7 linked regions of the Homo sapiens genome follow. The protein of the gene in region 6 purifies or fractionates together with the protein of the main gene of each other region. This does not show direct contact. Each region holds a gene or a part of one and is shown on either strand. Other genes may lie near its edges. The genes, in order: PHF8, ERI1, CCDC106, PKN1, YEATS2, MAGEA10 and FAM216A.

Region 1 (3,500 bases), about 98 Mb from region 6:
ATGTGGACATTTCCATACATGCTGATATGAGTATAAACTGGTTCAATTAAGAAGGTAAGAACGGCTGGGTGCAGTGGCTCACGACTGTAATCCCAACACTTTGGGAGGTGGAGGCAAGCAGATCACTTCAGGTCAGGCGTTCGAGACCAGCCTGGCCAACATGGTGAAACCCCGTCTCTACTAAAAATACAAAAATTAGCTAGGCGTGGTGGTGGGCGCTTATAATCCTAGCTACTTGGGAGGCTGAGGCAGAAGAATCGCCTGAACCCGGGAGGCAGAGGTTGCAGTGAGCTGAGATCACGCCACTGCAGTCCAGCACTGGCAACTGTCATCTTAGGTGACAGAGCAAAACTCCATCTCAAATAAATAAATAAAATCTTTGTTTTTACTCTGCCTCAACAACAACAAAAAAGAAGGTAACAACCAGGAAAACCTCAGGCATCTGCTATTATTCAAAAACGTTTGATTCGTCAAACATTTTTGAATCAATTTTTTTTTTTAAGATGGAATCTCGTTCTGTCGCCCAGGCTGGAGTGCAGTGGCACAATCTCGGCTCACTGAAAGCTCCACCTCCCAGGTTCATGCCATTCTCCTGCCTCAGCCTCCCAAGTAGCTGGGACTACAGGCGCCTGCCACCAAGCCCGGCTAATTTTTTTTATTTTTAGTAGAGATGGGGTTTCACCGTGTTAGCCAGGATGGTCTCAATCTCCTGACCTCGTGATCCGCCCGCCTCGGCCTCCCAAAGTGCTGGGATTACAGGCGTGAGCCACCGCGCCCGGCCAAATCAAATTTTTTTTATTCAAAATGTAAATCAAACTGATTCAAAATGTTTCTGTGCTGCCATGTGACACGTACAGGGAGGCCCAAGGCCTGGCTGCCTCCAGAAGCCATGCGCATTCCTACCTTGAGTACATGGTACCAGACAGAGGTGCCACCAAAGTCAATGTGAAAGTCTGTATAGCTATCTCGCACACTCATGAGGCAGTACTTCTGTACATTGGGTCTCTCAAAGACACATTCCTCTGGCCACAAGTTTTCGACCCATGACAGCTTTCGAACAATCTTCGGTGTCTCCACAAGGTTAGAAAGTCTACCAAGGAAGGGGTGGAGAGCAGATGTCAGCTGATTAGGAAGAGAAGATTGAGGCCTGAATAAAATACCCCACAGTTCAGTGAGGGTCAGATAAGTCAGAGAACAAGTTCCCTCCACAGAATCCCCAAAGGCACATAGGACACTTATTTCTGTTCTGTAAGTCTGGTCAGTATCCTCATTCTACTCATCTCCAGAAGTCCCAAGTCCAAGCTCCACAGGCTTCTCCAGTCAAAGGTGTTCATTTCCTCCACTAAATGCTCATACTCCCCAGCCCCACTCCAGACTACTCACTTGGCATGTGGATTATAGAAGTTATTGCACTATCCCCATCTCATAGTGTCTTCTTTATGAGAAACCACTAGAGCAACCTCACAGGGCTCAGTTCCAGGTAAAGAAATGTTTCTCTGAAACATCTGTTGCTTTTATCCTACGTAAAGCCACAAATCTTACAATACTGCACTCCTCTCTTTGTTCTGACCTTCAGGAAATTCACTGAAAACTCTATAGTCCATTTCCACCAACCGGGAAATGTGCTGAGCACCCACCACATGCATTCTATTTCCCAATCTTATTTCACTTTTGTTCTAGTTTTCTCTCTTTTTTTTTTGGCTTCTCCACATCTCTGTAAGCTACCTTGAATAGTCTTTCAGGATGAAGTGAAGTATAAACAAACAAATACAGTTTTTAAACACTCTCAGGTTGTTTAACCTTGCATCTTAAAAACAACAGCGCCGGGCGCGGTGGCTCACACCTGTAATCCCAGCGCTTTGGGAGGCCGAGGTGGGTGGATCACGAGGTCAGGAGATCGAGACCATCCTGGCTAACACAGTGAAACCCCGTCTCTACTAAAAACATAAAAAATTAGCCGGGTGTGGTCGCAGGTGCCTGTGGTCCCAGCTACTCGGGAGGCTGAGGCAGGAGAATGGCGTGAACCAGGGAGGCGGAGCTTGCAGTGAGCCGAGATCATGCCACTGCACTCCAGCCTGGGTGACAGAGCGAAACTCCGTCTCAAAAAAAAAAAAAAAAAAAAAACACAACAGCAAGGGTCTTAATATTGTACCGTAATTACATAATACGTTACCATTGAGGGAAAGTGGCTAAAGAGTACACAGGACCTCCCTGTACACTTTTTTGCAACTTCCTATCAATCTACAAATTAAAAGTTAAAAATGTAAATAATCAGACAGTAAGTTTCCTAAGGGCAAAAAGATACATTATGATTTCTTGGTATTTCCCACATTTCTGACCCAAAGAGAAGACTATATACGTATCTACTGTGTGTGTGAGTCCAGATAGAATCATTTAAAGGTAAATAGGTTTCTCTTTTTCTTTTTAAATGTAAGAAACCTACATGGGGGTAATTTTAGTAAATCTATTTCCAGGAACTGAGGACCTATCCCACCAGTTACACAGTGACTGTGGCACTGTTGTATATAGGAGGAAAAGGTCAAAGAAGGGTGTCCTAAGGTCTTGAAAAAGGAGACAAAAATTAATTAAAATAGCTACTATGTAATCTATCCAATGCTAGAAACTGTGGAGGAGAAATATGACTCAACTGTTACAACGTGAGCAGCTACCCTAGAAAATATAACCCAGCTCGCCATCCCAAAGGAAGAAACCACCAGGAAGAAGAGAAAGGAACACGAGGCAAGGTGCGGTGGCTCATGCCTGTAATCCTAGTACTTTGGGAGGCCAAGGCGGGCAGATCACCTGAGGTAGGGAGTTCGAGACCAGCCTGGCCAACATGGTGAAACCCCATCTCTACTAAACATACAAAAATTAGCCAGGCATGGTGGCGGGCGCCTGTAATCCTAGCTACTCAGGAGGCTGAGGCAGGAGAATTGCTTGAACCCAAGAGGCGGAGGTTGCAGTGAGCCAAGATCGTGCCACTGTACTCCAGCCTGGGCGACAGAGCAAGACTCTGTCTCAAAAAAAAAAAAAAAGAGAGAGAAACACGAATATACACTAGATATATCACACAAGTTTCAGGCACTTTGTCAGGTTTTTTTGTTATTCCTGCACCTCTTACCTGGTATCAGAGAATTCCAAACTAATGACATTGAGGACTTTCTCCCTCTTCCCGCTGTAATAGTATTTCACAAAATCACCAAGCTTCATCTTGCAGTCAGCCTGGCGGGTCACATCAATCACATCAATCTCTTTGTCAGAACCTGGAGTAAAGAGATAGGTTCTGCACCAAGTAGTCTCAGGGACTGTGGAAGACTCTCTTGTCCCCTCATCAGTCCCTAGAATGGCCTTACACTCAAAGCTTCTCTCCACTGACACTGTACATATATGTGTGTGTTTGTTTGGGGGGCAGGGGAAGGAACCCATCGCACTTTCCTTAGATCTATGTGCCCTGCTAGGGCAATGGAACTACCAGACACACAGCCTCACACATAGTAGTC
Region 2 (4,124 bases), on a different chromosome or scaffold from region 6:
ACAAAATCAGATGAGCTAGTTTATCCAAGATCAGGTGAGTCAGTTTATCAATCTGGGAGGTGCCAGCTGATCCATCAAGTGCAGGGCCTGCAAAATATCTCAAGCACTGATCTTAGATTTTACAATAGTGATATTATCCCCAGGAGCAATTTGGAGAGGGTTAGAATCTTGTAGCCTTCAGCTGCATGAGTCCTAAATCATAATTTCTAATCTTTCGGCTAATTTACTAGTCCTACAAAAGCAGTCTAGTCTCAAGAAGAGGGTTTATTTTGAGAAAGGGCTATCACCTTTGTTTTAAACTATAAGCTATACACTAAGTTCCTCCCAGTGTTAGTTTGGCCTACGCCTAGGAATGAATAAGGATAGCCTGGAGGTTAAAAGCAAGATGGAGTTGGTTAGGTCTGATCTCTTTCACTGTCTCAATGATAATTTTGCAATGGCAGTTTCACATCTGAGGTTTCTATTGCGTGTTCCATGGTATTCAATAATCTCTTCACTCTGGTTGCTGGGAGCTCAAATGATTCCCAGTTCTGTGTGACCTCTCACCATTGTTTGGTGTACTGCTCCCCAGTAATTGTTCTTTCCTGGCCTTGTGGAGTTTCACGTTTTTTATTCAGTTAAAGATTCAAGGTACTCCTAAGCAGATTTCTGAAGCTCTTTTTCCATGTAATTCCCTCCTCTCCAGAATTCTGCCCTACAAATTCCAACCGACTTGGCCTACCCCAATTTCGTCAACTCCAATCTCTGTCTTTTCAACCCAGGAGATCCTAGGTTTCCATATGATTTCCTTTCATCGCACCACAGACTGGAAATCGCCTCTGGGCAAAAGGGCAGGATGATATACGGCTCCTTTTATTTCTTTTCTCTCAGGTAAAACAGTCCACAGCTGTCCGTTGTCCAATGTCTGAATAGGTGTCTCCTATATTTTGTTCCGTTTTCTAATTGTTTATAGTGGGACACTAAGTCCCGACCCATTTTCTTTTCTTGCCCAGAGTGGAAGTTTTAGGAAACTCCTTATGGAAAATGTGAATTGTTTTATTATTTTTTATGGTCGAAAACATCTTTCTCTATGATATCTTCCCACTCACCCTACTTTTTTCCTTCTCAGGAAACACTGACGGGAACACACGTGCCGGTGCTACCCTCCAGTGACTGGACTAGATCCTTGCGCAACTTCAACCCGCGCTAGCTCCGCCTACGGCCGGCCACGCCCCGTCTTCTCACCGGCGCGCCTCCCTCTTGTTCGTCCTCCCTCCCCCTGTGGACTGCGGCGCTGGCGTTCCGCGCACGCCGGCTCACTGCGCCTGCCCGGCGTGTGGACGCCACACGCTCCCGGAAGTGGGAGGTGGCCGCTGGAGTTTGTGTGGCCGCCGCCGCGGGAACGCGAGCCCGGTAATTTTTCAACGGAGAAAGGCGAGGCTTTCGGGCTCTGCAGAGTGAGAGTTAGCAAGTGTCCGGCTCCAGCAACTCTCCTCTGGCGTGACAGCCGGCATGGAGGATCCACAGAGTAAAGAGCCTGCCGGCGAGGCCGTGGCTCTCGCGCTGCTGGAGTCGCCGCGGCCGGAGGGCGGGGAGGAGCCGCCGCGTCCCAGTCCCGAGGTGAGGAGTCGACCCGCGCCTGGCTGTTGGCGCCAGCTGCCCCGTCCCCAAAGCGCCCTCGGCACCCCTTTCTTCTCAGGTGTCCCGCAGAAGGTGCAGCTGTGCGCCCTTGGACCCCAGCCTCTTCCTCGGTGCCCAGCTCCCTGGCTTTATCCTCGGGTGGGTGTCTTGGAGCCCCCTCAGGGCCGAATCACTCTCTGGGAGGGAGGAAATCGTCAAGACCAGTTCTGTCTACAGTGGGTTAACAGGTTCTAAGAGGGAGTTTTGCTTTAAACTTAATTCTGTGTTCACGGTTGCTGTTGTCACTCCATGTAGCCGTTATGGGTAGTTTGCAAGGCTTTATGTTTTTAAAATCTCACCATATACGCTAGGTATGTCACTTCATGCCTGTTTTTAAAAAAAGAAAAAATTTAAAAAGCACTCACCAGCATCCCTGTCTCTGTACCTGTTAAGTGGAGCTTCGTCTTAGCTGCTTTTGCTCATTAACTGGTGTCTCATATAACCATAGTATAAGATTGAATGAATCATTTTGACATCTCATCGGTTGAACTTAGTTACAGTGGCAAAGTTGTAGAACAGTCTTAAAACTTATTTAACGAATGTTAATTGTTGACTAGCGCTGCGGATTGTAAGTGATTGAATACTAAAATTGATCTTTTCCTAATAATAAACATGTTGAACACTTCGTAAAGCTTCATAAAGTGCGTATTTGCAAGAGGCCTCCTAACTCTTGCTCCTTCCGTCCACAGTCAGTTTCCATCTGGCAGCTAGAATGAGCTTTTCAATAACATGAATTTGGCTTATTCCCCTCCTGAGTCACTTCCATTTGCTGCTCTGCGGGGTCGGGTGCCTGCCTCCCTTGGTAATTGCATCTCACACAGTTTTTTCCCTTTTGTTCCCAGTGCCCCTCGCTGCCTTGTGTTCTTTGACATTGGAAAGAAGGTCTCGTTAAGGATCTCTGTATGTTCCTTTTGCCCTGTGTGCACTTCCTTTGGATCCTTGCAATTATCTTTCTCCTTCTAAGGTTGTTATTTCAAAGAGTACTTGCACATCCCTTCTCTTGTAAAGAACCACTCTTCCACCTGCCTCCCTCTTCAGCCTGAGATACGTTGTCAATCTCATCCTGTAAGTGGGTTTTAAAATAAATTTCGAAGTTTATTTTTAGTAAAAGAAGTGTGTTTGAATATGCTTCTTTATATTTGAAAGTCTTGACACTTTTACAGCTACTTAAGGCCTAGGTCTCTGTTCCAAATTGGCTTTAGTGACGGTAGTAATTGTTAAAAACTTACTGTTGCATGCTCTTTATAGTGATACTTTTTTTTTTTTTTTTTTTTTTTTTTACAAAAAGCCGGTCGTAGTTGCCCTCTCCCGTAGTCCCAGCTACTGGGGAGGCTCAGTGGGGAGGATCACCTGAGCCCATGGGTGGAGGCTGCAGTGAGCTGTGATCGTGCCACTGCACTCCAACCTGGGTGACAGAGTGAGACCCTGTCTCAAAAAATAATAGTAATGATACTTTTTTTTTTTTTTTTTTGGAGACGGAGTTTCGTTCTTGTTGCCCAGTCTGGAGTGCAATGGCATGGTCTCAGCTTACTGCAACCTCCCGCCTCCCGGATTCAAGTGATTCTCGTGCCTCAGCCTCCCTAGTAGCTGGGATTACAGGAACCCACCACCACGCTTGGCTAGTTTTTGTATTTTTAGTAGAGATGGGGTTTCACCATGTTGGCCATGCTGGTCTGGAACTCCTGACCTCAGGTGATCCGCCCACCTCGGCCTCCCAAAGTGCTGGGATTACAGGCAATGAGCCACTGCGCCTGGCCATGATACAGTGTTTTTCAATCTGGGCCAAAGTTTTTTGTTGAATTCAGGTGGTAAATTTCCATTATCTCTAATGCTAGTTGTCTTTGTAAACTAGTAGAAGCTATTGCATATTTATATTTTTAATAAGTAGGTTCAGATTTCATCAGAACTCTCCTTTTGGAAGAACGTCAATCAAGAAAAATTCTAAGTTTTTTTTCAGTGTGCAGATGCAGAGGTTTTCCTTTTCTTTTTTTAAAAGGTAGTACCTAGATTTTTGGCAGCAGAATAATAGCATTTCCAGAACATGTTTTCAAAATGTTCTCTATACAGAAAAAGTTTTATTTGACAAGCAGTTACTTTGTAGCTTACTGTTAAAATGTGTTTTCTTTTTTCTTGCAACAACAGATTGTGTTCCTTTAAAAAAATGCTAAAAATCAAGCTCCGGTACCCTTCCCAATAAGAAGAGGACAGCAATTATAGAATACCTGTCTTTTTGTAAAAGAAAATTTGTAACTCATCTTTAAGTTCAACAACAGTTTTTTTATGTTTTTTTTTTTTTTTTTTGAGAGGGAGTCTCTCTCTGTTGCCCAGGCTGGAGTGCAGCGGCTCAGTCTCGGCTCGCTGCAAGCTCCGCCTCACGGGTTCACGCCATTCTCCTGCCTCAGCCTCCTGAGTAGCTGGGACTACAGGCGCCCGCCCGGCTAATTTTTTGTATTTTTAGTAGAGAC
Region 3 (4,189 bases), on a different chromosome or scaffold from region 6:
TGTGACTATGCGCGGTTCCCATAGGGGAGGGAGAAATTTCTGGGGACTGGGCGGGACCTCTGGAGAGTAGCCTCTGGAAACCCAGGAGGCAGGCAAGGCCTTGGCTGGAGTCGGGGGGTCAGACCGAGAGAAATCAGGGGCCCTGGGTCCAGCAGGCTGGGTCCCACCTCCATCTAGACAGAGGGAGCCGGCAGGCGGAGGCCCAGACACAGATTCCTCTAGAAGGCGGGTTAGGGGAGGGCTCTGGTGCCAGGGTCCCCACTGGGAAAGTGCCGAAGCCGCAGGGCCAAACTGTCTGTGCAAAGGAGTCAGTCACCCAGGATGGAACCATCAGTGAGAGGAGACAGTGGCAGGCCCAAGGGCAGCCAGAGGTGGTTTGTTCCCGAGCAGAGGGAAAGCCAGATCCCCAGATGCTGGGCTTCCAGTAACAGAGACACCACAAGACCATAGCCCCCTTGCCTAGGATTTTTGGGGAAAGGGTTGAATTCACAAAGAGAGATGTGGGAGCTTTTGAGGGGTCTTCCCAGCCAAGGAGCTAGCAAGGCTGAGATGAGGGTAGGTGGGGTAGAGTGTGGGTTCTCCAGGCCATGGGCTGTCGGGCAAACGGCCTGACCATCCGGGGAAGAGGATGGGGCTGGGGTCCAAAATGTATTAAACAGGGCACAGGGTCCCACCAGTCAAGAGAAGACGCTAGCTGTGAACTGGCTGGGGCTGGGTGCTGCTGTGGGAGCTATCTGGGCTGCTTCTGGCCATGAATTATAGCAGAGCAAGGTATGTGGGTGGGGACTGCCCAGGAATCAGGCAGGGTTTGAGGGACAGCACCTGCTGGGGTCACCACCCAAAAAGGCCCACAAAGGAAGGGACTTAATGTCTTTGATGGGGAAGGAGTGCTCATTAACCAAGGATGGGACAGGGTGGGTGGGAAGATGGCCCCTGGTGTCACAGAGGGGAGGGGGGGACAGGAGGAGGCCGGATGGCTGGACTCTTGGATCTTGGAGAAGACAGGGACGGGAGGAGGAGCAGGGGCCCCCTGAGGAAACCCAAAGAACTAGGGTGGGCCTCTTGGCCAAAGAGATGAAGGAAGGTCCCCCTAGGAGTCAGAAGAGAGGGGCTCTCAGGTGCCAGGGTCCCTGAAGTCACCATGGGCCAAGGAAGCAGATGGCAGGGCACTGGAGGCTGATGGGATTTGGGGAGCTGACGGAGAAGGCAGGAGGACGGGCCCCAGTAGACAGTTCATGGGGATGAGGCCCTGGAATCAAGTGAGGAGGCAGCTGGGCCTGGGGGCCCAAAACAGGCAGGGGACTAGCAGATAGGGCCAACATGGCAGGTCCCACCCAGCCAGCCAAACAGTGGAGCCTTGAGTCTGGGTGAGCGGGTACCCAGTAGCGGGACAGGGAGGCATGTGGATCAGAGCACCCCACACACACCTGCCTCCATCCGAGCAGAAGAGATGAATTTGTCCAGCTGGCACCGCAGGAAGTCCCTCTCTTCCTCCAGGTCCTCGATGCGCTTCTGCAGCCAGGAGTTCCTCTCCAGAGCCATGTGCAGCTGGGTCTTGACGCTGTTCATCAGAGCCAGGGCGGAGGACGCAGCCTCCGGAGGCTCTAGGGACACAGCGAGGGTGGGGGGACCAGGTCACACCCTGGGACTCAGGGCTTGGCTTCCCAGCTGACTCCAGTCCCTCCACACCCCCTCAGCTCACCCTCGAAGTTTCTCCGAGAGGGGCTCAGACTGTAAAAGATCTGTGGGTCTAGGTGGGGTGCCTCATCGAAGGGAATGGAGATCTCGAAGGTCTCATCGTCCTTCACTGGAGAGGAGAGGCCCCGGGTTACCCCAGAGAATTCCCCGGGCCTCTCAGGCCACCCCCCAACCACGGCAGCCTGGAGCCGACCGCACTGGGACCCAGGGTAGGGAAGGGGACCCAGCTTCCTCACTTGTCCGCCTCCGACTGCTCCGGTCATTCATGGCGCGGCTTCCTACGGACCCCAGCAGCCGAGGGCCTCAGGGGCACTGGACAGAAACGGCAGCCACAAATGGAGAGACGCAGATGGACTGGAGGGTCCATCCTGGGGGAGGTGAAGTGAGACAGGAGGGACCTTCTGGCCTGGACCCCTGGTCTGAGGGAGGAGGGAGCCTGGACCCCAGGACTGAGGCAAAACGCGCCTGGGCTTCAAACTCCTGGGCTCCTGGAGTCAGGGGCAGGGGGCCCAGCCGCCTAGGTCCTGGGGGAGAAGTGAGCTGGGGACGTGGGCTCCTGGGTATCGAAGGAAAAGGAAGCTGAAGCCCTAAATTGCTGGGTGCCCCAAGGGGTCGCCTGACCAGGGACACCTAGCCTGAAGGGGAAGGACCCTCTCTCATCGCGGGCCACTGCCAGGCCTAAGGAAGAGGCAGGTGCAGGGGGAAACTGCCCCAACTTCCCAGGGTAGGAGGAGGTCCAGCCCGTGCGCGCTGCCTCCTCTACCTTCGGGGCCCCCACACCCCTCCCCCGCACTCGCGTGGGCGGGCGGACCGTCCCCCGGTGGTGGGGGCTGGGCGCGTGCGCAGTACGGGGAAAGGTCACGCGTGGGGGTGCGCCCCCCCCGCCCCCGCCCTTTGTCCCGCGGGTGGGAGGGGGAGCGGTCGTGGAACGATTCCAGCGGGAACATGCACTAGGGCGGGGGTGCAAACGCGGCCACCATCCCCCGCCCGCGGGTGCCCGGGGTCCGAGGGGCCGAGGCCCCCCGCGCTCACCCACCCGCTCGCGGAATCCGGCTCGGGGACCGACGGCGGCGGCGCCCATGCCCGGCGCCGGGGAGCGTCTGCAAAGTGTCACGGGGAGCCGAGGGAAGCGCCCACCCACCCGCGAACAGGCGGGGCGGCAGGGGAGCGTGTCGTGGAACTGAGCGACGGAACGGGCAGGGACGCGGGGACTCGCCCAGTCGGGCCAGGCTAGCGCCCCTCGTTGAAGAGTCCCCGGGTCCAGGTGAGGCCCGCCGTTTGCGGCAGAAGCAGAGGGTCTGCACTTGCGCGATAGCCCCTTACAGCACTCCCCCGCCCTCCCCGAAGCTCAGGCAGGGAACATCACGAAATTCCCATCCTGGAGAGCTGGCGAGTCTCCGGGGGTCCCCGGATTGGGTGGCGGTGTGCCCAATGGGCCCAGAAGGCAGGAGAGTGTTTGAGACACCGAGAAAGTTGGAGCGAAAGGAGAATCTACTTTTAACGCTCTCTCAGGAACTAGCCAGCGCGGACCCCTCAGAGCTCCCCTACCTCCTACAGCCAGACCCCAAGGTTCTCAGGGATGTGGGGGCCAAAATCGGGGGAGTTACCCCTCTCCCGGAAAATGAGGGCCAGGAACACGCCACCCCCATCCCCATGTTGGTAATTAAGAGCTGGCTTTGGAGCAAAGCTAGATTCCAGTCCTGACTGTTCCTGCTCCTCCCCAGCCTGTTAACTCACCTGCAAAATGGGGAAATTACAAGCCCTTCTAAATTTATTGTGAGGATGCAGTGATGCGACACACAGAAGCTCAGCCCAGCACCTGGCCATCGTCAGGGCTGAAGAGAGGAGCGCTGCTGGTATTATTTGAGGTCAGATGGTGGGGTATGATGGCAGCCTCTGGGAGGCTCTTTCCCACTCTGGGGAGTATGAACGGAAGATTTGTTCTTCCTCCCAAAAAAACAGGTCGGAAGAGCAAATGAGGCCTAGCACAGTGCCTGGCACAAAATAGGCAAGAAAAATGAATGAATAAGCAGATGTTTATTAAGCTTCAGGCTCAGCTCCACCTGCCTCTCCTGTTCACCAGAAGCATCCAAGCTCTGGACTGTGGCCAGCCCTTATAAGAGCAAGGTCTTAACCCGATGGAGGGAGAATCTAAATGTCTGCACCGCCTGCAAAGCTGTGACCATGATCCTCCCCTCCCCACTTTACAGATTAACTGCAGCCTGGTCCAAAAATTCCAGGGGGAGCCATCTGCCCTAGATTGGTCTTTTCCAAACTACAGGTTCATGGGTGGAGAATTCAATAGAATAGGATGAAATCAGCAGTTTAAAAAAATATTTAGCCGGGCGTGGTGGTGCACACCTGTAATCCCAGCTACTCAGGAGGCTGAGGCAGGAGAATCGCTTAAACCGGGGAGGTGGAGGTTGCAGTGAGCCGAGATCGCACCACGCTCCAGCCTGGGCGACACAGCGAGACTCCGTCTCAAATAGTA
Region 4 (3,500 bases), on a different chromosome or scaffold from region 6:
ACACGTTTTAACCAGCATAGAGATCTGGGCCCTGGTTCTGCCACAGACATGCTGCGTGGCTCCAGGGAAGTTCCTAGTGGTCTCTGAGCCTGGAGCAGGACCCCTGACGCTGCCCAGGCCAGGCCTACGGGGATAGAAGGGGGGACCCTCACCAGGCTCGATGGGCTGGAAGGAGGATCCCGCGAGCTCTTCTGAGGTGAGCTGTCCGAGTCAGTGCCGAGGTTCAGCTTCTCCACCGATATGTCACTGCAGCAGACGAGAGGAGGGTGTGTCTGGGACCCAGGACCCTCGCAGGCTTCAAGGGGCAGCCGGGACCATGGGGCCCTCCTTCCTTACCCCGTGGTCCGGGCCTCGGATCCTGGAGAAGCCCCAGGGCTAAAGGTGCCTGTGCCCGTGGCATTGGGGATGAGCCTCCGGAGCAGCCGCACCCACGTGGCGACATCGATGTTCATCTGCCTAGCACGCTGGAACGCCTTCCCTGGGGGGACGGGGCAGGCGTCACCCTCCATGACACTCCCAGGACCCCTGGCCTCTCCCCCAGGAAGCCTGGAGCACCCTCTCACCTTGCTGCTTGGAGAAAATTTTCTTCTGCCGTCGGAGCCGAGGAATCCTCTCAATGACAGGGTTGCGGAAGGTGACCTGGGGGAAGGGACCAAAATGTGAGGACCCTCTGCCCACCTGCAGGCAGACAGCTTGGTAAGGAAGCCCCTGGGAGCACAGGTGTGCGCGCCCAAGTGGGGTTCTGGTCACGTGGCATCAGATTCAACCCGAGTACCAGGTGACAATGAAGAGGTCATCGGTGCAACCCATGGCTCCCCTCCTGAAGGGACGTCTTGGAAAAGCAAGAAGCAAACAACCGGGTCCCTTTCTAGAGGTGGGGAGAGCATCTGACCCAACAAGACTGACAGACAGCGACTGCAAACGGACGCCACGCCATCCCACACCCCATTCCCCACATGTGCTCCCAGACCCCAGACCTGCAGTAGCAGCAACACCTGGGAACTTTCTAGAAACGCAGGTTTGACCTACTGAGCCAGAAACATGGAGTGGAGGAAGCGCGCGCATGCTCTCTCTCTCTCTCTATATATATATATATATACACACACACATATATATATATACACACATATATATATGCACATATGAGTAGTCCGATCTCGGCTCACTGCAGCCTCCACCTCCCGGGCTCAAGAGATCCTCCCACCTCAGCCTCCTGAGTAGCTGGGACTACAGGCACGCACCCCCATGCCTGGCAAATTGTTGTATTTTTGTAGAGACGGAGTTTCACCATGTTGGCCAGGCTGGTCCTGAACTCCTGGGCTCAAGCGATCTGCCCACTTTGGCCTCCCAAAGTGCTGGGATTACAGGCGCGAGCCACCGTGCCCGGCCCTAAAGCACTCAGTATTTCAACAAGCCCCCAGGCAATGCTGGTGCCCACCCATCTATGGAAGCCACCTGTCAAGTTGAATTCTCCCAACTCCAATACAACTTCTAGAAGGTGCTGAAGTCACAGAACTGCAGTGTCTGGTATGGTTGTCACATGTGGCGATTTAAATTAGTGAAAATGTCAGCGAAATTAAAACTTTGGTTCCCTGGTCACACTGGTCACACTTCAGATAGAGAACATTTCCATCTACAACAGAACTCAGCTACTGTGGGTGCATCGACAACAGAGCTGCAGAAAGTTCCTTTTTTCTTTGAGACTCTGTTGCCCAGGCTGGAGTGCAGTGGCGCAATCTGGGCTCACCACAACCTCCACCTCCCAGGCTCTAGAGATTCTCCTGCCTCAGTCTCCCGAGCAGCTGGGATTACAGGCACCCACCACCAAGCCCGGCTAATTTCTTTTTTTTTTTTTTTGAGACACAGTCTCACTCTGTTGCCCAGGCTGGAGTACAGTGGTGCGATCTTGGCTCACTACAACCTCCGCCTCCCAGGTTCAAGTGATTCTCCTGCCTCAGCCTCCCAAGTAACTGGGATTACAGGCGTGCGCCACCACACCTGGCTGATTTTTGTATTTTTAGTAGAGACTAGGTTTTTCCACGTTGGCCAGGCTGGTCTTGAACTCCTGACCTCAGGTGATCTGCCTGCCTACCCTCCCAAAGTGCTGGGATGACAGGCGTGAGCCACCGCACCCAGCCGAATTTTTGTATTTTTAGTAAAGACAGGGTTTCACCATGTTGGCCAGGCTGGTCTCAAACTCCTGACCTCAAATGATCCATCCGCCTCAGCCTCCCGAAGTATTGGGATTACAGGCGTGAGCCACAGCGCCCGGCCAGAGCTGCAGAAAAGTTCTATGGAAGAATGCTTCTGTATAGGCATAAAAACAAAATAGAATGCCACAGAGAGACCTTGAAGGCAAGGAGAAACGCTTTAGAATGTGTCCCCCAGGCCACCCACCATCACTTTCCATTTGGTTTGGGCTGTGTTCTGAATGGGAGAACAATTTTAAACCTCTGCCATCTGGAGTCAGCTCTTCTCCACGCCCCTTTCTTTCTTTCTTTTTTTTTTTTTTGAGACAGAGTTTCGCTGTTGTTGCCCAGGCTGGAGTGCAATGATGCGATCTCGGCTCACTGCAACCTTCATCTCCCAGGTTCAACTGATTCTCCTGCCTCAGCCTCCCGCGTAGCTGGGATTACAGGCGCCTGCTACCACACCCGGCTAATTTTTCTATTTTCAGTAGAGACGGGGTTTCACCATGTTGACCAGGCTAGTCTCGAACTCCTGACTTAGTGATCTGCCCGCCTCAGCCTCCCAAAGTGCTGGGATTACAGGTGTGAGCCACTGTGCCTGGCCCCGCCCCTTTCTTTCACTGGTGCTTGATGGTCAGACCAGGGGAGAACCTCTGCTTAGGGATATGGATATAGAGAGATGGATAAATAGACACAGAAAGAGACAGATATAGACGCAGGTAGATAGAGAGGGGCATGGACGGAAGGGTAGTTACAGATAGAGAAAGAGAGAGGGACTGATAGAGAAAGGGATTCATAGAAAGAGAAGGATGCATGGATAGATGGATGGATAGATAGATACAGCTATCGAGAGAAAAAGAGAGAGAGACACAGATAGATACAGAGAGGGATAGATAGAGACAGAGACAGGAATGGGTGGATATAAATAGAGATAGAGGAATATACAGAGATGGATGGATGGAGGGATGAGCATAGATAAGATAAATGGATGGATGGATAAGATGATAGATAGATAATATAGATGGATAGATAATATAGACAGATGGGTAGACGGAAAGATAGATTAGTTGATAGATAATATAGATGGATGGATAGATAGATATAGCTATATAGAGAAAAACAGAGGCACAGATAGATATAGAGAGGGATAGATAGAGATAGAGAGAGGAATGGGTAGATATATATACAGAGAAATATACAGGGATGGATAGATGGATGGATGATGCATACATAAGATTGATGGATAAGATGACTGACAGATAATAGAGACGGATGCATGGAAAAATAGATTGGTTGATAGATAATATATAG
Region 5 (3,500 bases), on a different chromosome or scaffold from region 6:
GACTTTTATGTAACTGTAATCCTTTATCTTATACGGTTGCAACATTTTTTTTTTTTTGGCAAGAAGTAGAGGAATTAATTTAAACATATCAATAAGACTCTACACCATCACCTCATCCCAGTGCAGGGAGAACCCTGCCTGAGTACCATGCTTCAAACTCAGAAACACCCACCACAAATACCAAAAGATTTATTGTAGACAATTTTGTTACACAATTATACACATTATGATACACGTTTGAAACATTAACACACGTGGAGACTGCTAAATCATTTAATATTTCTTTTGCAAAAAGATAATTTCTTTAGGCTGTGATACCTGCAATAACCAATCTGTTCTCATTTGGATCAGATCTTTCTCCCTCTGTCCTGGAGATCTCACAGTTCACTTTGCTGAAGCAATCTATCCACTTCCCTATCGACCTTGCTTATAGCAGTTCAGGTATAGACTATTTGAGCCTTATATACTAAACTGTTAAGCCAGTGCGTGCCCTATGCCCTGCTGAGAATAGATTCCTTCTGTACTTGCAGCCCTCAGATGCTGAATTGATCAATCAATTTTTGAGACGGGGTCTCCTCTGTCACCAGGGCTGGAGTGCAGTGGTATGATCTTGGCACACTGCAACCTCCGCCTCCTGGGTTCAAGTGATTCTTCCTGCCTCAGCCTCCCGAGTAGCTGGAATTACAGGCACACACCACCATGCCCAGCTAATTTTCTGTATTTTTAGTAGAGACGGGGTTTCACCATGTTGGTCGGGCTGGTCTCGAACTCCCAACCTCAGGTGACCCACCCACCTCGACCTCCCAGAGTGCTGGGATTACAGGCGTGAGCCACCATGCCCGGCCCAGATGCTCAATTTAAAAGGCAGAGTTTATTCAGTCACTCCCCGCCTTACCTTCCTGACTCAAACATCTACAGGACCCATGAAAACAGGAATTACGTTGCTTGGGTAAGTTTCTCTGACTCTGACTCACAGGTTTCCGATTTTCCTGGAGCAGAATAGAACAGATTTCTGACTGGGCATGCATTCTTTGTTCTGCCTTCCACACAGGCTGTGTTAGGAAGTCTGAGATGGGGCGCCTCCAATAGACCCGGGCACCTGGCAGCGCCACCTTCTCCTGCCTGCCACTCCCTCCCATCGAGGGGGCCTCTGCTTGTGGACACAGACTAATCTCACTGCTTCTGGGCACTGGCATCCTTATTTCTGGGCATGGGCAGTTACTTCTCCAACTTTAAGGCACTCACTGGTATTTCTTTTAAATACTTTTCTTCTTGGGAAAAACTCCTTAACAGAGAAGAGTATATACAATCCACGGATAGGACAGACGACCCCAGAAGAGCCTGCCGGGCGCCGCTCCCCACTGGCCACTCAGCATGGGGTCAGCAGCAGAAGCTCCTGCAGGCCATGCAGATGGCGTGGAACCTGCGATCTGCTTCGCACACATGTGTAACGCTGCTACACTTCTGCCAAGTGTCTGGGACTGGTGCACACAGTCTATTCCTAGCATAGTGAGTTTTCTTGGTTATAATCAAACCTCTTCCTGACTCCTGTTGGGACCTCTCCGTCCCTTGCCACTGCTTTGACAATGGTTCTAGTAATGCTCTCGTGCTCAAAAAAGGAATTCTGCTCAGTCTGCCGTCTCTCAGGCCTTCATGGTTCTTGGCTCTAGGTATGGCCTCTTCCTATAGCTGACTCACTTGGGCTCAGAGTACAGCCCCTCCACACCAAGGCCAGGCATGGGAGAGAACCACCTGCTGAAGGCTGAAGCCCAATCTCTCTTCAGGGTAACTGCTGGAGCTACTGGTAACTCCAGCCCACAAAATGGGTGAAATCTCTAGCCTGCCACTCATTTTCTACCTCCTGGGGAGGCGGGCCCAAGGAGCCCCCTTAAGCACACCCAGGGAGAAGGGCCTGAGGCACACGGCCTGGCCCGCTCTCGTGGGGCCTTTACAAAGACTGCAGAAACGCTGGCCGACAAAGCACGGATCCACTGACAGCCTCACTCCACACTCAGGAAACAAACTCCTGTCCTAGGAGGATTTCATCTGGAGTGCAGCGTGCTGGTGACACGTGGGAACAGGCAGCGGCAAAGGTTGGGTAGCCATGACATGCCGAGTCACACTGGAAACCACCTCCTTCCCGAGCAGCAGGGTCCTCAGTTACAGCTTCGCTGTGCCTTCAAAGCCTGCTTCTCCAGGGCACCTCACTCCGCTCACTGGTCCTCATTCAATATTCCCATGTGTTTGTTTGTGAGGAAGTCCAGAAAAGGAATGTTGCAAATGGCCTGGTGAATATTACTCACTGTAATTTCTTTGGGAATCCTGGTCCAAAAAACAAAGGGTGTTACCAGGTGAAATTCTCTCACGTATATCTCATCATTTATTCACTTAACTCATCACAGGGACCATCCCAGGCAGAGGCCCCGTGGAGAGGGCTCCTGAGCCACAGACATAGCTTAGGGCCACTCTGGGGTGAGGACTGCCTTCCTGTCATAGGCATGAGAAGGATGTCAACAAGTTGGTTGAATAATTAGGAAAAAAGATTCTGAGAACTGAGAAAAGAGAAAGAAAACAAAGCGGATGGCAGAACGGAATGACACATTTGTGAGTGAGTCTCAGCAGACCGAAAGCTGAGTCAAAGCACCACAAAACTCTGGGACCTTATTTCCCATCTCCTAGAAAGACGGGAGACGGAGCCACGCCAGGCCAGGCGTGATGTTAATCGTTCCATCAAAAGCACCTAAGTCACTCTACCCCTCCAGGACAGGGAGCACAGAGGTAAGCAGGGGCCACAGGAGGCCCTGGCTCACTTGTGGGTCCAAGCAGGACAGTGGGCAGCAGGACCGGAACTCTTGGTTCCCCTTCCTTTTCTCTAAAGACGCCTATGTTGTCTGATATATTCCTGTGAAGTTTCATCTACTATTCCTCTGATTTAGGCCCTTCATGTCCTCAGGCACTTTGCTACAATTTTATAAATCTGTGACAGCCTTTAGCATAATGCAATAAAATAATATTTGTTTCCTCCGAAAGAAAAGCAGATGTGGCCTATCTACCATCCTTTCAGGGCCTAGGAACAGACTGAAACTCAGTGTCTTAATCAAAGACAACGAGTCAGCAAAGAGCAGTGGCGAGCCCAGGGGCCTCAGAGCCAATGAGACCTGAGTCGGAAGTCCAGGTCTACACTGTATTTGCTGGGTAAGCTGGGTAAAATTACCTTTCAAAGCCCGGTTTCCTGATTTTTAAAAAGAGAATAATAGTTCTGCAATGAAAAACAAATTAGGTAATATATGCAACGCTTGGCCCTCGTGTCTGACATGTAATGGACACTGTTATCTTTAATTGCAAAGCTAATATTTATTCAACCCTGTAATAAAACAGAGTCCTAGGTGTCTGTGAAGTAATGAGGAGGATATAAACCTCTGAGCAAAGCTGAGTGAGCTTTCACAACCATGAGGTTCTCTAAAAATGACAAAGCAGACCCTTGAGCTCATCTGGCTCTA
Region 6 (4,020 bases):
TATTGCACAATCTGAGGCAACACTTCATACCACGATGCCAGTAGCCCAGTAGCTCTGGAGTGATATCAGGACAGCAGGAAAGACGGGGTTGATTGAGGGAGTATGACTCCGGAGTCTATGCTGCTAACCACCTAAAACCACCACAGTGACGACTGGTCTTAGTTGATCCTCTGCTACAAGTTAATAATTCTTTATATTAAATTTTCTTGCTCAGAAAAAAAGAGAAAAATTATTATAATAGAATATAAAGAATAGACCAGAAATAGAATAAGCAGTGAACCACACAGCGTAAGGTAGGTATTCTTTCATGAAATGTTATATATGTATTCAATATACACTTGGCAGACATTTAAAACACATATTTTTACTAGGAATGAGGGTTAGAAAACCAGACATCACTGCATTGGACTATAAAATATCAGCTAAACTCAAAACAGCAGGACCTCTCCACACCCCGATGCTCAGCCTCTTTCTTGTAGAAAATATACCCTTTAGGACAAAAAGTTTGCCAAGTCTACTTGTGGCTTGGGAAGAGCCCCGTTGGGAAGGTGTGCGTCTTCTCCCATAGGTCATTACAATCACGGGTGTTGCAGCTCCCCAGGGACCATCTGGCCTGGGAACCGCACCCATGCTCTGCAAGGGATGCAGCTGGGCAAATGATCAGAGGTGACGGAAACTGAGCATCTCCCACCCATCACTTCATCAAAGAGACAAAAGCCAGGAGGAAGACCCTCCTGAGTGAGGACCGAGGGTCCACCCACCCCTCACAAAGGGGCCACAGAATCCAGCTGAGCCCCTCTTGTCAGCCCTGGAAGACCCTGGCAATGTTGTCACCCCTACCACAACCCTCCCCTCACTGCCACCTTGGAAGACTCCGAGTCAAGAGACCTGGTTTAAGGGGAGAAGACATCCTCAGCACAAAACAGGGGTCCAGGCTTTTCCAGGCATCAAGGTCGAGACACTGAGGGATGACTGAAAGACCCCACCCCCACCCCCACCACGACCCACAGCCCCAAGATCCCCATCCCAGTTCCCACCTCCACGCCCCTCCCCACACTCATCTTCACCACCACCCCTGCCCCAACCCCATCCTCACCCGTACCCCACCCCACCCGGACTCCCACCCTCACTCCCACCCCAACTCCCACCCCAGTTCCGGCAGAATCCACTCCGCCCCTGCTGTCAACCCAGGGAAGCCCCGGGGACCGGATGTGACGCCACTAACTTACGCCTCGGGGATCAGAGAGAAGCGAGGTTCTCGTTCTGAGGGACAGGCTTGAGATCGGCTGAAGAGAGCGGGCCCAGGCTCTGTGAGGAGGCAAGGTGAGAGGCTGAGGGAGGACTGAGGACGCCCCCAACCCAGATAGAAAGCCCTAAATAATACAGCGCTGCCTCTGCTGCCAGCTCTGGACCACCTGAGGGCAGACTTCTCAGGCTGGGCTGTCACCCCCCCCCCACCCCCGCCCCCACTCTCTCCCGCCGCTTAAGCCGCAGGGGACTCTGGGAGTCAGAGCTTGGTGTGACCAGGGCCCGGCTGGTTCGGCGGGAGCCGCGCCTAGGTTCTGCCAGCATCAATGTCGGGACGCTCAGGGAGGGCTCTGCCCCTGATGTCGGCCCTGGGAAGCCCTGGTCATGGCGACCAGGAACGCAAATTCTGACGTCGGCATCTGAGGCTGACGTAGGGAAGGGGATATTGGTACCAAGAATGCGGCTTCAGGGGAGCAGAGGGAAGGCCCGGGCCCTGCTGGGAAATGAGGGAGGCATGAAGGGATCCCAGGACAGGGTGCCCACCCCACCTCTGTCTCAGACCGAGATGTCTCTTCACTCGGCCTGAGGAATCCAAGGGACGGTGACTCAGGTCTGCGGCGGGGCGTGGTAGAGGAGAACAACCCAGCCAAGAGTCAAGGGGAGGAAGAAGAGAAAGGACTCAAGGGACCTTGGAGTCCAGATCAGTGGGGACCTCAGCCCTGGGTGGTTTCAGGCACGGTGGCCCATGTGATGTGTCTTTGCTGTGCCTTTGGGGTGTCAATGAGGAGAGGGCTATGGTCTGAGGAGTGGAGCCTCAGGTCAGCAGAGGGAGGAGTCCCAGAGCCCTGAGGGAGGACTCAGCAGATCCCCGCATCTCAGAACTAGGAAATCTGTCCCTCTTATCAGCTCTGGAACCCCAGGCAGGACGGTGAGGAAGAGAAGTGGCCCCCACTTTCTCACCGGGGATCCCAGGGAGATGGTGGCTTTGGCGTGCAAGACCCATACACGATTCAGCAGGAGGGAAAGGGCTGGGCCCTGTCGGGAGTAAATCTGAATACCTGGAGGACACCCAAATAAAGGAAGTCCCCGTCTTGTCCCCCTCCCCTGCCCACCACCCCCCCCCCCCCCCCCGCCAAATGTCTGCTCCTTCTGTCAGCTTTGGGAATCCCATGCAGGTGTGATCGTGTGGTGCCCCTCCCCACTTCTGCCTGCCGGGTCTCAGGGAGGTGAGGACCTTGGTCTGAGGGTTGCTAAGAAGTTATTACAGGGTTCCACACTTGGTCAACAGAGGGAGGAGTCCCAGAATCTGCAGGACCCAAGGGGTGCCCCCTTAGTGAGGACTGGAGGTACCTGCAGCCCAGAAAGAAGGGATGTCACAGAGTCTGGCTGTCCCCTGTTCTTAGCTCTGAGGGGACCTGATCAGGATTGGCACTAAGTGGCAAGCTCAATTTTACCACAGGCAGGAAGATGAGGAACCCTCAGGGAAATGGAGTTTTGGTGTAAAGGGGAGATATCAGCCCTGGACACCCCACAGGGATGACAGGATGTGGCTCCTTCTTACTTTTGTTTTGGAATCTCAGGGAGGTGAGAACCTTGCTCTCAGAGGGTGACTCAAGTCAACACAGGGAACCCCTCTTTTCTACAGACACAGTGGGTCGCAGGATCTGACAAGAGTCCAGGTAAGGAACCTGAGGGAAATCTGAGGGTACCCCCAGCCCATAACACAGATGGGGTCCCCACAGAAATCTGCCATGACCCTACTGTCACTCTGGAGAACCCAGTCAGGGCTGTCCGCTGAGTCTCCCTGTCTTATACAAGGATCACTGGTCTCTGGGAGGGAGAGGTGTTGGTCTAAGGGAGCTGCACTCGGGTCAGCAGAGGGAGGGTCCCAGACCCTGCCAGGAGTCAAGGTGAGGACTGAGGGGACACCATTCTCCAAACGCACAGGACTCAGCCCCACCCTACCCCTTCTGTCAGCCACGGGAATTCATGGGGAACTGGGGGTAGATGGACTCCCCTCACTTCCTCTTTCCATGTCTCCTGGAGGTAGGACCTTGGTTTAAGGAAGTGGCCTCAGATCAACAAAGGGAGGGTCCCAGGTCGTATCAGGCATCAAGAAGAGGACCAAGCAGGCTCCTCACCCCAGTACACATGGACCCAGCTGAATATGGCCACCTCTTGCTGTCTTTTCTGGGAGGACCTCTGCAGTTGTGGCCAGATGTGGGTCCCCTCATGTCTTCTATTTCGTATCAGGGATGTAAGCTTTTGATCTGAGAGTTTCTTAGACCAGCAAAGGAGCAGGGTCTAGGCTTTTCCAGGAGAAAGGTGAGAGCCCCACGTGAGCACAGAGGCTCCCCACCCCAGGGTAGTGGGGAACTCACAGAGTCCAGCCCACCCTCCTGACAACACTGGGAGGCTGGGGCTGTGCTTGCAGCCTGAACCCTGAGGGCCCCTCAATTCCTCTTTCAGGAGCTCCAGGGACTGTGAGGTGAGGCCTTGGTCTAAGGCAGTGTTTTCAGGTCACAGAGCAGAAAGGGCCCAGACAGTGCCAGGAGTCAAGGTGAGGTGCATGCCCTGAATGTGTACCAAGGGCCCCACCTGCTCCAGGACAAAGTGGACCCCACTGCATCAGCTCCACCTACCCTACTGTCAGTCCTGGAGCCTTGGCCTCTGCCGGCTGCATCCTGAGGAGCCATCTCTCACTTCCTTCTTCAGGTTCTCAGGGGACAGGGAGAGCAAGAGGTCAAGAGCTGTGGGACACCACAGAGCAGC
Region 7 (3,500 bases), on a different chromosome or scaffold from region 6:
TTGTTATGGCAGCAAAATGAAACTAACATAGAGCCCCTTTTTAAAAAATTGTATATATTTAAGGCCGGGCGCGGTGGCTCACGTCTGTAATCCCAGCACTTTGGGAGGCCGAGGCGGGTGGATCACGAGGTTAAGAGATCGAGACCATCCTGGCTAACACGGTGAAACCCCCGTCTCTACTAAAAATACAAAAAATTAGCCGGGCGTCGTGGCTGGCGCCTGTAGTCCCAGCTACTCGGGAGGCTGAGGCAGGAGAATGGCGTGAACCTGGGAGGCGGAGCTTGCAGTGAGCCTGGGCAACAGAGCGAGACTCTGTCTCAAAAAAAAAAAAAAATTATATATTTAAAGTAGAGAAGAGTACGTAGAAACCAAGATCTGGGTGCTAGGTGTGCTTATTTATAATATACTTTCATTGCTTCTAGACTTTCTCCGAGGACAGTGCTGGGAAAGAAATGTGTGTGCATTTACCTGTGAGCACATACATACCCATACATATCTATTTCAATATTTCTACTAACTCCAAATTCCAATCCAACAAACAGGGTTTATTCTGTGCTTTCCTCTTTCCATATTAATAGGTAACTCGTCTCCAAAAGTGTGAGACCTGCTTATTAACTACAATATATTATTTGCTTCGTCCTAAGATGTATAAAAAAGTAGTTTCTAAAGTGCTAACACATGCTTCTGAAAAAAAAAAAAAAGAAGCCTAGTAGGCTGGGCGCAGTGGCTCACGCCTGTAATTCCAGCACTTTGGAAGGCTGAGGTAGGTGGATCACGAGGTCAGGAGATTGAGACCATTCTGGCCAACATGATGAAACCCCGTCTCTACTAAAAATACAAAAAATTAGCTGGGCATGGTGGCGCGTGTCTGTAATCCCAGCTACTTGGGAGACTGAGGCAGGAGAATCACTTGAACCAGGGAGTTGGAGGTTGCAGTGAGCAGAGATCGCGCCACTGCACTCCAGCCTGGCGACAGAGCAAGGCTCCATCTAAAAAAAAACCCAAAAAAAACAAAAAACAAAACAACAAAAAAAAGCCTAGTAGTTAATTAGAGATCAGTATTTGCTTAGAGTTGTTTTTGTTTGAGGGCATATAGTCCAAGCAGTATATTCAAAAGTTCTTGGGTTGGTTAACTATTTATTTGTGGTAAAATATACATAATATAAAATTTACTATTTTAATCTTTTTTTTTTTCTTTGAGATGGAGTTTCGCTCTTGTTGCCCAGGCTGGAGTGCAATGGCTCGATCTCGGCTCACTGCAACCGCTGCCTCCTGAGTTCAAGCGATTCTCCTGCCTCAGCCTCCTGAGTAGCTGGGATTACAGGTGCACCCCCACCACGCCTAGCTAATTTTTTTTTTTTTTTTTTTTTTTTTTTTGAGATGGAGTCTCACTCTGTTGCCCAGTCCGGAGTGCAGTGGCACGATCTTGGCTCACTGCAAGCTCCACCTCCCGGGTTCACGCCATTCTCCTGCCTCAGCCTCCTGAGTAGCTGGGACTACAGGCGCCTGCCACCATGCTTGGCTAATTTTTTTATATTTTTCTAGAGACGGGGTTTCACCATGTTAGCCAGGATGGTCTCGATCTCCTGACCTCGTGATCCGCCCGCCTCGGCCTCCCAAAGTGCTGGGATTAAAGGTGTGAGCCACCACGCCCAGCCTAAGGGTTTCACCATGTAGGCCAGGCTGGTCTCAAACTCCTGGACTCAAGTGATCTGCCCGCCTCAGCCTCCCAAAGTGCTGGGATGTATAGGCATGAGCCAATGCACCTGGCCCATTTTAATCATTTTTAAGTGTACATTTCAGTGGCATTAAGTATATTCACACTGTTGTGCAACCACTACCACCATCCATTTCCAGAAAGTTTTCATCTTCCCAAACTAAAACTCCGTACCTATAAAACACTAACTCTCAGGTGGGTGCAGTGGCTCGTGTGTGTAATCCCAGCACTTTGGGAGGCTAGGGCTGGAGGATCGCTGGAGCCCAGGAGTTTGAGACCAGCCTGGGCAACATAAAATTAACTTTAGTTTTTTTTGTCTCTAAAAGAAAATTTAAAAACAAAATAAAAAACCACTAATTCCCTATATACCTCCTTTCCCCTGACCTCTTGCAACCTCCATTCTTTCACTCCGTATATATTTGATTTTCCTAGGTATCTCATAAAAGTTAAATCATACAATATTTGTCCTTTGTGACTGGCTTATTTCACTTAGCATGTCTTCAGGGTTCATCCATATTGTACCATGTGTCTGAATTCTCTTATTTTTTTAAAGCTAAATAATATTCCATTGTTTGTATATACCACATTTTGTTTATATATTCACCTGTTGATGGATACTTGGGTTTCTTCCACTTTTTGGCTATTATGAAGTAATGCTGCTATGAGCATGGATAAATAATCTGTTTGAGTCCCTGCTTTCAGTTCTTTTGGAATTGCTGGATCAGAAGTGGAATTATTAGATTATATGGCAATTCTATGTTTAAATGTTCGAGGCACTGCCATACTATTTTTCTTTTTCTTTTGAGTCAGTCTCACTCTGTCACCCAGGCTGGAGTGCAGTTGCAGTAACTCAGCTCACTGCAACCTCTGCCTGCCAGGTTCAAGTGATTCTTCTGCCTCAGCCTCCCAAGTAGCTGGGATTACAGGGGTGTGACACCATGCCTGGCTAAGTATTTTGTGTGTGTGGTTTTTTTTTTTTTTTAGTAGAGACGGGTTTCACCATGTTGCCCAGGCTTGGTCTCGACTCCCAACCTCAGGTGATCTGCCTGCCTCAGCCTCCCAAGGTACTGGGGTTATACAGGCATGAGCCACCATGCCCAGCCTATTTATTTTTAAGTGCTTCATTTTCTGTAAAGAAATGTTATCAAGCTATTGAGAAATTAAGTGTTGGTCCAAAATATAATATGCATCTCAGAAATATTGTTTATTAAGGACACAATTCATATTCTTATATAAATAGCCTCTGTTTACAACTTGAAAAAGGATTTCCAAAACAAAAAACTTTTAAAAATCTTAAATTGGCATTCATATTATTACAGATTATAAGTTATGTTTCAAGGGTCATAATACAATTTCCAAATGATTTTCCATTTCTTGGTCAACTAGTTAGTCCTTACCTGTAGTATCCAACTTGCCAAAATCTTGAAGAAATAACTAAATTTAAAGTTTAATACAAAACTGAAATAGCCTGTTATTAATAATATTGAAACAAAAATGTGCTTATTGAATTCAACTAACTATATACTTTTTTTTTTTTTGAGACAGAGTCTCACTCTGTCACCCAGGCTGGAGTGCAGTGTTGCGATCTCGGCTCACTGCAACCTCCACCTCCTGGGTTCAAGAGATTCTCCTGCCTCAGCCTCCTGAGTAGCTGGGACTACAGGTGTACGCCACCACACCTGGCTAACTTTTATATATTTTTAGTAGAGACAGGGTTTTGCCATGTTGGCCAGGCTGGTCTCCTGACCTCAAGTGATCTGCCCGCCTCAGCCTCCCAAAGTGC

What was found.
Region 1: the proteins of MAGEA10 (region 6) and PHF8 purify together in Homo sapiens (affinity purification with mass spectrometry; 4 studies listed by BioGRID and IntAct, with this or other methods). This does not show direct contact.
Region 2: the proteins of MAGEA10 (region 6) and ERI1 purify together in Homo sapiens (affinity purification with mass spectrometry; 4 studies listed by BioGRID and IntAct, with this or other methods). This does not show direct contact.
Region 3: the proteins of MAGEA10 (region 6) and CCDC106 purify together in Homo sapiens (affinity purification with mass spectrometry; 4 studies listed by BioGRID and IntAct, with this or other methods). This does not show direct contact.
Region 4: the proteins of MAGEA10 (region 6) and PKN1 purify together in Homo sapiens (affinity purification with mass spectrometry; 4 studies listed by BioGRID and IntAct, with this or other methods). This does not show direct contact.
Region 5: the proteins of MAGEA10 (region 6) and YEATS2 purify together in Homo sapiens (affinity purification with mass spectrometry; 4 studies listed by BioGRID and IntAct, with this or other methods). This does not show direct contact.
Region 7: the proteins of MAGEA10 (region 6) and FAM216A purify together in Homo sapiens (affinity purification with mass spectrometry; 5 studies listed by BioGRID and IntAct, with this or other methods). This does not show direct contact.

Annotation. Positions count from the first base shown.
Region 1 is NC_000023.11:54,013,474-54,016,973, forward strand, and holds part of PHF8 (histone lysine demethylase PHF8), read right to left. Parts: intron 3,264-3,500; coding exon 3,122-3,263; intron 1,091-3,121; coding exon 904-1,090; intron 1-903. UniProt on the Homo sapiens protein: Histone lysine demethylase with selectivity for the di- and monomethyl states that plays a key role cell cycle progression, rDNA transcription and brain development.
Region 2 is NC_000008.11:9,001,573-9,005,696, forward strand, and holds the start of ERI1 (3'-5' exoribonuclease 1), read left to right. Parts: upstream 1-1,324; 5' UTR 1,325-1,491; coding exon 1,492-1,599; exon of another isoform or gene 1,600-1,758; intron 1,759-2,501; exon of another isoform or gene 2,502-2,724; intron 2,725-4,124. UniProt on the Homo sapiens protein: RNA exonuclease that binds to the 3'-end of histone mRNAs and degrades them, suggesting that it plays an essential role in histone mRNA decay after replication.
Region 3 is NC_000019.10:55,646,823-55,651,011, reverse strand, and holds the start of CCDC106 (coiled-coil domain-containing protein 106), read right to left. Parts: upstream 2,801-4,189; 5' UTR 1,966-2,800; coding exon 1,935-1,965; intron 1,808-1,934; coding exon 1,703-1,807; intron 1,605-1,702; coding exon 1,428-1,604; intron 1-1,427. UniProt on the Homo sapiens protein: Promotes the degradation of p53/TP53 protein and inhibits its transactivity.
Region 4 is NC_000019.10:14,460,806-14,464,305, reverse strand, and holds part of PKN1 (serine/threonine-protein kinase N1), read right to left. Parts: intron 640-3,500; coding exon 564-639; intron 479-563; coding exon 337-478; intron 247-336; coding exon 153-246; intron 1-152. UniProt on the Homo sapiens protein: PKC-related serine/threonine-protein kinase involved in various processes such as regulation of the intermediate filaments of the actin cytoskeleton, cell migration, tumor cell invasion and transcription regulation.
Region 5 is NC_000003.12:183,809,297-183,812,796, reverse strand, and holds the end of YEATS2 (YEATS domain-containing protein 2), read right to left. Parts: intron 2,779-3,500; exon of another isoform or gene 2,346-2,778; intron 2,323-2,345; coding exon 2,214-2,322; 3' UTR 173-2,213; downstream 1-172. UniProt on the Homo sapiens protein: Chromatin reader component of the ATAC complex, a complex with histone acetyltransferase activity on histones H3 and H4. YEATS2 specifically recognizes and binds histone H3 crotonylated at 'Lys-27' (H3K27cr).
Region 6 is NC_000023.11:152,135,778-152,139,797, reverse strand, and holds the start of MAGEA10 (melanoma-associated antigen 10), read left to right. Parts: upstream 1-1,220; 5' UTR 1,221-1,323; intron 1,324-2,828; 5' UTR 2,829-2,927; intron 2,928-3,717; exon of another isoform or gene 3,718-3,808; intron 3,809-3,963; 5' UTR 3,964-4,020. UniProt on the Homo sapiens protein: Not known, though may play a role in embryonal development and tumor transformation or aspects of tumor progression.
Region 7 is NC_000012.12:110,478,845-110,482,344, forward strand, and holds part of FAM216A (protein FAM216A), read left to right. Parts: intron 1-3,500.